2 linked regions of the Homo sapiens genome follow. The protein of the gene in region 2 purifies or fractionates together with the protein of the main gene of each other region. This does not show direct contact. Each region holds a gene or a part of one and is shown on either strand. Other genes may lie near its edges.

What was found. The genes of interacting proteins can lie anywhere in the genome.
Region 1: the proteins of PLD2 (region 2) and CDH5 purify together in Homo sapiens (affinity purification with mass spectrometry; 3 studies listed by BioGRID and IntAct, with this or other methods). This does not show direct contact.

What each region holds. Positions count from the first base shown.
Region 1 is NC_000016.10:66,369,599-66,373,345, reverse strand, and holds part of CDH5 (cadherin-5 preproprotein), read right to left. Parts: intron 190-3,747; exon of another isoform or gene 129-189; intron 1-128. UniProt on the Homo sapiens protein: Cadherins are calcium-dependent cell adhesion proteins. They preferentially interact with themselves in a homophilic manner in connecting cells; cadherins may thus contribute to the sorting of heterogeneous cell types.
Region 2 is NC_000017.11:4,817,016-4,820,762, reverse strand, and holds part of PLD2 (phospholipase D2), read right to left. Parts: coding exon 3,708-3,747; intron 3,688-3,707; coding exon of another isoform or gene 3,618-3,687; coding exon 3,504-3,617; intron 2,762-3,503; coding exon 2,657-2,761; intron 2,467-2,656; coding exon 2,378-2,466; intron 2,270-2,377; coding exon 2,156-2,269; intron 1,990-2,155; coding exon 1,940-1,989; intron 1,680-1,939; coding exon 1,545-1,679; intron 1,335-1,544; coding exon 1,181-1,334; intron 1-1,180.

The sequences.
Region 1 (3,747 bases), on a different chromosome or scaffold from region 2:
TGATGCAGAGGAAACCGGGCCAGTCAGATCTACTGCAGCCACAGCTGAAAACTGAATTTCTCTTGGCTGCAGCCTCTGGAGATGTGGTCATAGCCCTTTTTTCATTTTAGCCTGTTTCCTTTCGGCAGGTAAGAGTCACATCTCTCGGTCGTTCTCAGCAGTTTCCAGAGAGACTCAAGCTGTTGCCAGGTAGATTTGGGGCACCCCAGACATTCAGAGGGTCTGAGGATTTTGGAAGTGATTTCCATGTTCAGAAATTCCCAGCTGAGCAGCCCAGCAACTGCCTGATCACAGTGGTGAGCAGGGAGGGGCCACGCTTGGCAACTCAGATGTAGGTTCTGAGCACGCCGAGGCCAGGTACCTGCAGTGTCCCAGGCATCCAGGATGCTTATCGATGCTGCTGTCCCCAGAGCCATGTGAGAGGGTTTGGGGGCAGTTCCAAATGGAGGAGGATGGGCCCTCTGTACCCTCCCTCAGTCTGGGGAGGTCTGGAGGACCCAAAATGAGAGGACGGAGTGAGTGGCCCGAATCCCCTGGTGAGTGGGCGTGGAGCCCAGGATTAAACAGCAGGGGAGCCTTGGAAAATAAGGGGGACGACTGGGCTCCACCATGCTCCCATGGGAGGTTGGGACCGCAGAGGCCTCTGGGGTCCAGGTCTGTATCTACCGTGGGTGGGGCCACTGGGATCAGAACCTAGACACCTAGGCCAAGCCTGGTGACCGAGGGGTCCTCCGAAGGCTGAGTCACCTGGGCAGCCTGAGAAAAGGTTGGGGCTCCTGCGGCTCTTTCTGCTCCTCTCCAGCTGCCTGTCTGGGTCTGCAGGTGCCTGGTGAGCCTCCAGGCATAGCTCCGGCCCACAGGACGTTAACTCTCTGGGAAGCTCCCCACCCCACCAGGTTTGGTTGCATCCTCCCTGCCCGTGCACTTGCTGTCCTCTCTCCTCTGCCTGGATTTAGGACACATGTCACCACTTCTCTGAAGCTCTCTCTAGAGTCCTGGGGTTATACAGTCATGCAGCAAACATTTATTGAGCATCTACTATGTGCCAGGCACTTAATTCCATGCAGGAATAAACACAGGCTCCACTTCCGTGGGAGAGAGGGATGCCGGTCATGTGGTGAAAAATGCAGTTTGAAATTGTGACATGTGCTTTGATGGACAAATCGAGGAGGCTGTGGGAGCATACAGACTGGGAGGGCCCTGATGGGTCTGAGGACCACAGTCCCAGGAGTGAGTCCTGCCTCTCACTGAGCCACTGTGGGACATCACACAAAGCTCCCTTTGGTCCCTTTCCCTTTGTGGGCGTCCATCTCTCTGGGGTTCTGCCTCCAAGGGGCTGTGAGATCGGCTCAGCTCTGTGCTGAGTTACAGTGTCAAAAAGAGAGGCTAGGGATACAAGAGAAGAGGAAGGGAAGGGAAGGGCGGGGAGGGGAAGGGCTAGAGCTGCTTTTCTTGGGACTGCCTGGGACCCCTGGCTTTGTAGCTAAATAAGACATAGGAAGTCTGGACCCAGCTGGGGGCCCCTCAATGGGCTGGTCCAGCCCCTCAGCCCCTGGGCTGGTCCTGCCCCTGAGCACCAGGAGGACCCCCTGCCCCTCGACCTGACCAGAGCCCCACTCAAGCCTTAGATTCCAGGGGCCAAGTCTGGGCTTTGCAGTATAGGGGGTTTTCAATAGGCTGGAGGGCCTCAGGGGTGGGGCAGAGGAAGGCTCCAGGTCCAGGACACACACATGACATCTGCAGGCCTCATGGACCTGTGACACCCTCAAACATGCCTTCACAAGTGCACACCCCTGACCACAGGCACCTGCCCAGGCCAACTCCTGCAGGGCTCCTCTTTGCAGGCCTGGCTGCTCTCCTCCCTGACCCCCAGCACACCCGCTTTCAGCTAGGATCCCAGCCCAGCCTCCTGCAGCCTCTGGACTCCAGCCCAGAGGCCTGGGGTCAGGGATGAGGGGCAGGGCGCTGGGAGGAGCCGGCCTAGAACATGCAGGAGGTGTGCCTGCTGGAGTGGGGGCACTGAAGACCCAGCTCCGTGTGTGGCCCTGGGCAGCTCTCCCCACCGCTTTCCCATTCCACAGCTCAAATCTCAGTCCAGGTTGGGGCTGGGACCCAGTGACCCCCAAACTCTGTGGGGACTCTCAAATGGTCTACTTGAGCTCAGGCATTTAAAGTTGCGTATTGGCGGCCACAGACTTTGGGAGGATGAAGGGTGAGGCCCTGGGAGCTCGGGAATGGGGTTTGGCCAGGCAGCTATGACCTGGCCCCTTCTGCTTCCTCCTGGTTTGTGGCTCAGTTTGGCCCTGGGATAGGCTTCTGTGGGTTCCAGACCTGTTCCTCTCCCTGCAGGTTCTGCCAACAGCCTCCCCACTCCCTGCTGGAGGAAGTCTAGCTCCTCAGCCAGCCCTTAAGGCCTAGCATGGTTGTCCCCTGCCCACCCTGCCAGCTCTCCTCTCCTCCACTTCCCTGCCCCTTCCAGCCTCGAGGAGAGCTAGGAGTTCCTGAAATGCACAATGCCCTTCCTCTCAGCAGCAGGCTTTTTGCCCAGGCTGTTCCTTCTGACTGGAATGCTCTTCTTTGCTGTGTTTCCTGGGTTAACGCTTTACTTCTTCTCAAGGCCCACACTGCCTACTCCATGAGGTCTTCTGATTGCCACCTGCCACCAGCACAGCCTCTGCCTCCTGGCCTATCTGCCCAGGCAGGTTCTGGGCCTAAGAGTTCACTTCATGCCATACCTGGGTGCATGAACTCAAGGCCCTAGACCTGGACGTGCTGCCTGTCAGCCTGGTGCCAGCTCCAGTTCTGGTCTTGTCACCCACTCCTTCCCCACTCACAGGATTTAGAAACAAATCTGTATATTTTCAGACAACACGTAGGGTGGTCAGAGTAGGTACAATTGTTGGTATAACTTAAAGAAGCTCCTCCTTGTTCCCAAATAGGTCCTCTGATGGCTCATGGGATAGGCTGCCATGGGACTGCCCAAAAGACCACCGATAGGATTTTGATCCTTTACTGACAACAAAATTATCCTTCTTAAGAGTCCCTGGCCAGGTGTGGTGGCTCACACCTGTAAATCCCAGCACTTTGGGAGGCCGAGACCAGTGGATCACCTGAGGTCAGGAGTTCGCAACCAGCCTGGCCAACATGGTGAAACCCCGTCTCTACTAAAAATACAAAATTAGCTAGGCATGGTAGCACATGCCTGTAATCCTAGCTACTTGGGAGATTGAGGCAGGAGAATCGCTTGAATCTGGGAGGTGGAGGTTGCAGTGAGCCAAGATTGCGCCATTGCACTCCAGCCTGGACAACAAGAGCAAAACTCTGTCTCAAAAACAAACAAACAAACAAACAAACAAACAAACAAAAAAGTCTCCAGTGAATATGCAAACACCCCTGAGCAGGGCACCTCTTAAGACAGGGCTGGCAAAACAGAACTCAGCTTGCCACATGCCCCTTTCCACACCTATGGCAGACATCACGAATCAATCACTCAAAGACTGTATTGAGGATCCTCATAGACTGTATTGAGGATTCAGGGGCTGAGTTCAAGTTCATTCCCACTGAATGAAGGTAGAGGGTACCAACTGGCCAGACCTATTTTGTGATGTGAAACAAATTTGTGCTGGAATCTCTGGGCTCCGGGTCATCTAGTCTATCCCCTTGCCTTCTAAAGGGACAGCTCCAAACTTCAAGGAGAGAACACCCATGCTAAGGAGGCTTCCAGACTCCTCTGGGCTTCCTGACTTT
Region 2 (3,747 bases):
CTACTAAAAATACAAAAAATTAGCCGGGCGAGGTGGCGGGTGCCTGTAGTCCCAGCTACTCGGGAGGCTGAGGCAGGAGAATGGCATGAACCCTGGGCGGCGGAGCCTGCAGTGAGCCGAGATCGCGCCACTGCACTCCAGCCTGGGCGACAGTGAGACTCCCTCTCAAAAAAAAAGAAAAAAAAAAAAGATTTTTTTTTTTTTTTGGCCAGGGGCGGTGGTTCATGCCTGTAATCCCAGCACTTTGGGAGGCCGAAGCCTGAGGTCAGGAGTTCAAGATCAGCCTGGCCAACACAGCGAAACCCTGTCTCTACTAAAAATACAAAAATTAGCTGGGCGTGGTGGTGGGCGCCTGTAATCCCAGCTACTCCGGAGGCTGAGGCAGAAGAATTGCTTGAACCCAGGAGGCGGAGGTTGCAGTGAGCCAGGATCGTGCCATTGCACTCCAGCCTGGGCGACAAGAGTGAAACCGTGTCTCAACAACAACAACAACAACAACAAAAAAGATTTCTTTTTCGTGGCCAGGTGCAGTGGCTCACGCCTGTAATCCCAGCACTTTGGAATGCTGAAGTGGGTGGATCACCTGAGGTCGGGAGTTCGAGACCAGCCTGACCAACACGGCGAAACCCCATCTCTACTAAAAATACAAAATTAGCTGGGCGTGGTGGCGCATGCCTGTAATCCCAGCTACTCGGGAGGCTGAGGCAGGAGAATCGCTTGAACCCAGGGCAGAGGTTGCAGTGAGCTGAGATCTCGCCATTGCACTCCAGCCTGGGCAACAAGAGCAAAACTCCGTCTCAAAAAAAAAAGATTTTTTTCTCTTTTTGTTTTTTGGTGTTCCTGCTTTACTGATACTCTAAACTGATTAGTCCTAGTAGCTGGGATCACAGGCGCCCGCCACCACACCCAGCTGATTTTTTGTATTTTTAGTAGAGACGGGTTTCACTATGTTAGCCAGGCTGGTCTCAAAATCCTGACCTCAGGCAATCCACCCGCCTTGGCCTCCCAAAGTGCTGGGATTAGAGGCGTGAGCTGCCGCGCCCAGCCTTGCCTATTGAGAATCTAGTACTGCCTCTACCTCTGGCTCCGGGAGTACCTATGCGGTGCTACCTCTTGTCCTGCTCAAAAGGCAGACGCCCCCATCTCCCTCCCACCCTGTGGCATCCCGCCCCAGCTCTACCCGAAGCAGTGCTTCCGCAGACTCAAGGCAAACCTGCCCGCCTGATACTCTGCCCCATTCATGAGGGATGGTTCCGTCTCTGTGTCCTCGATCAGCACGGCCAGCTCACTGTCCCGCTTCCCCAGCAAGCTCCGGTCATTGATGTTTGCAGAACCTGGGGTGGATGCGGGGCACACTGTGTGCTTGGGCCCAGGGCACTCTCCCCAGTACCCCATCCCCTCTACCAAAGCACTGGCCTGCAACATTCCTTCTTGGACCCTCCACCCCTACACGAGCCTCAGCTGCAGTCTCTGTCATCCTGCCTCTCATCTCTTCGCCTGTCCCCACACCCTCTCCCTGCCAGAGGACTAGATCCGGCACTGACCAATGATGACTGTCCGGTCATCTGCGATGAGCACCTTGCTGTGGATGTAGATGAGCTCCGAGACGGGGTGCCCGCCCAGCTCTCCGTGTGTACGAAGCCCGCAGATGGAAATATAGTCCCGCCATGCTGTCCCCACTGCGTGACAGGAGGGGAAGTGAGGTGAGAGGTGGCTCTGTGTGCACAGGGCCCTGTCCCACCTCCTCTCACTCCAGAAACTCTTCCTACATAGAGTCTGGTCTCTCTCCTTCTCCCTGCAGTGAAAGGCCAGCTATGGTCTGCGTAGCGTCAGAGGCTCACAGGAGTGACAGCCTCCTTCCCCCACCCCCAGGCCTGCAGCGCCCCAATCTCCCTCTCCCAGGGGCCCAGGGCTTGAGCCCCCAGCCCCCAGCACTCACTGGCTGCTTTAAGGCGATGCAGGATTGAATACTCCCCACGACACAGGGTCCTGAGAGAAAAGAAAGAGGGAGAGAAGTGGAGGCTGGCAGAGGGGAGGGGAGGTCAGGAGAGGTGGCCCTTCTTTAAGGCCCAGCAGGAAGGGATCAGGACAGAATCAGGAGGGGGACACGGGTGGGATGGGGCCACTGAGAGCTGGAGTCCGCCTGGGGGGTCACCTGTAAGTAAAGTGCAGAATGGCCTGGATGGAGTTGCCACCGCCCGTGGAGATGTCACCCTCGAAGCCAGGGAGTAAGGGCAAAAGCACGTAGACTCGGTAACACCACCCCTGTCTGGGGAGGGGGTGGAGTCAGAGGTGCGACTGGTCCCTCAAACCCCACCCCCTTCAACCGGGCTCAAACCACACCCACAGTCCCCACCTTCCTGACAGTCCACCTTACTTGTGGGCCTTCAGGATTCTGTCCACAATCTCATCGCCCACCTTGTTCAGAACCGTCCGCCCATCTGAGCAGCTAATGAAGAACTGATTCTGGGGCAAGAATCAGAGACAGACATCAGCAGCCTGGCCCCTGGCCCTGTCCTCGGCCTCCAGCCTTGGTCCCAGGCTCCAGGCGTCTGCTTCTGCTCCACCAGCCCTCAATGACTGACTCCACTCATTCCCCAGGTCTCTCTCCTGGGACACCCCTTCCATGCTCTCCCCCACCTCCTCCCAGTCAGACCTCAATGTAGAGGAAGTGCTGGCTCTCCCTGATGGTGTGCAGGTAGGCATTGAGGATGGAGTTCTCCAGAGTCCCTGCTGACCAGCGGTCCACTGATCGCAAGACCTAGGGAATGGTGAATGCGATGTGCTTCATTTCTTTTCTTTTTTAAGACAGAGTCTCGCTCTGTTGCCTAGGCTGGAGTGCAGTGGCATGATCTCCGCTCACTGCAAGCTCCTCCTCCTGGGTTCACGCCATTCTCCTGCCTCAGCCTCCTAAGTAGCTGGGACTACAGGTACGCACCACCACTCCCGGCTAATTTTTTGTATTTTTAGTAGAGACAGGGTTTCATGGTGTTAGCCAGGATGGTCTTGCTCTCCGGACCTCGTGATCCGCCTGCCTCGGCCTCCCAAAGTGCTGGGATTACAGGCGTAAGCCACTGCGCCTGGCCTTTTATTTTATTTTTGAGATGGAGTCTCACTCTGTTGCCCAGGCTGGAGTGCAGTGGCGTGATCTCAGCTCACTACAACATCCTCCTCCTGGGTTCAAGCGATTCTCCTGCCTTAGCCTCCCTAGTAGCTGGGACTACAGGTACGCACCACCACGCCCGGCTAATTTTTTGTATTTTTAGTAGAGATGGGGTTTCACCATGTTAGCCAGGATGGTCTCGATCTCCGGACCTTGTGATCCGCCTGCCTTGGCCTTCCAAAGTGCTGGGATTATAGGCGTGAGCCACCGTGCCTGGCCGTGATGTGCTTCTTAACCCCAGGAAAGGAGAGTGTGGGCAGCTCTCACACCAGGGAGAGTGGGTTGGGGTGTTAGGCTGAAGGAGACAAAGGGGAGGGCTGGCTGAAGTGGGGGGCCTCACCTGTACGGTGGTGCACTGCCCTCCTGGAAGTGTGAAGGGGAGCTGATTGGCCGTGCTGGTAGACTTGGGAAGCAGGTAGGGGTATGTGGGAGTCTTGTACTTGGCCTTGGTGGTCTGACGTGGAGGGATGGCAGAGTCAGCAGGAGGTGCCAATCTGCCCTGGCTCCCTCCCTACCTCCAGCCCCTATCGGAGGGAATGAACACCTTGGTGAAGTTCCAGCGCTGGATGAAGTGCCGGGCAAGG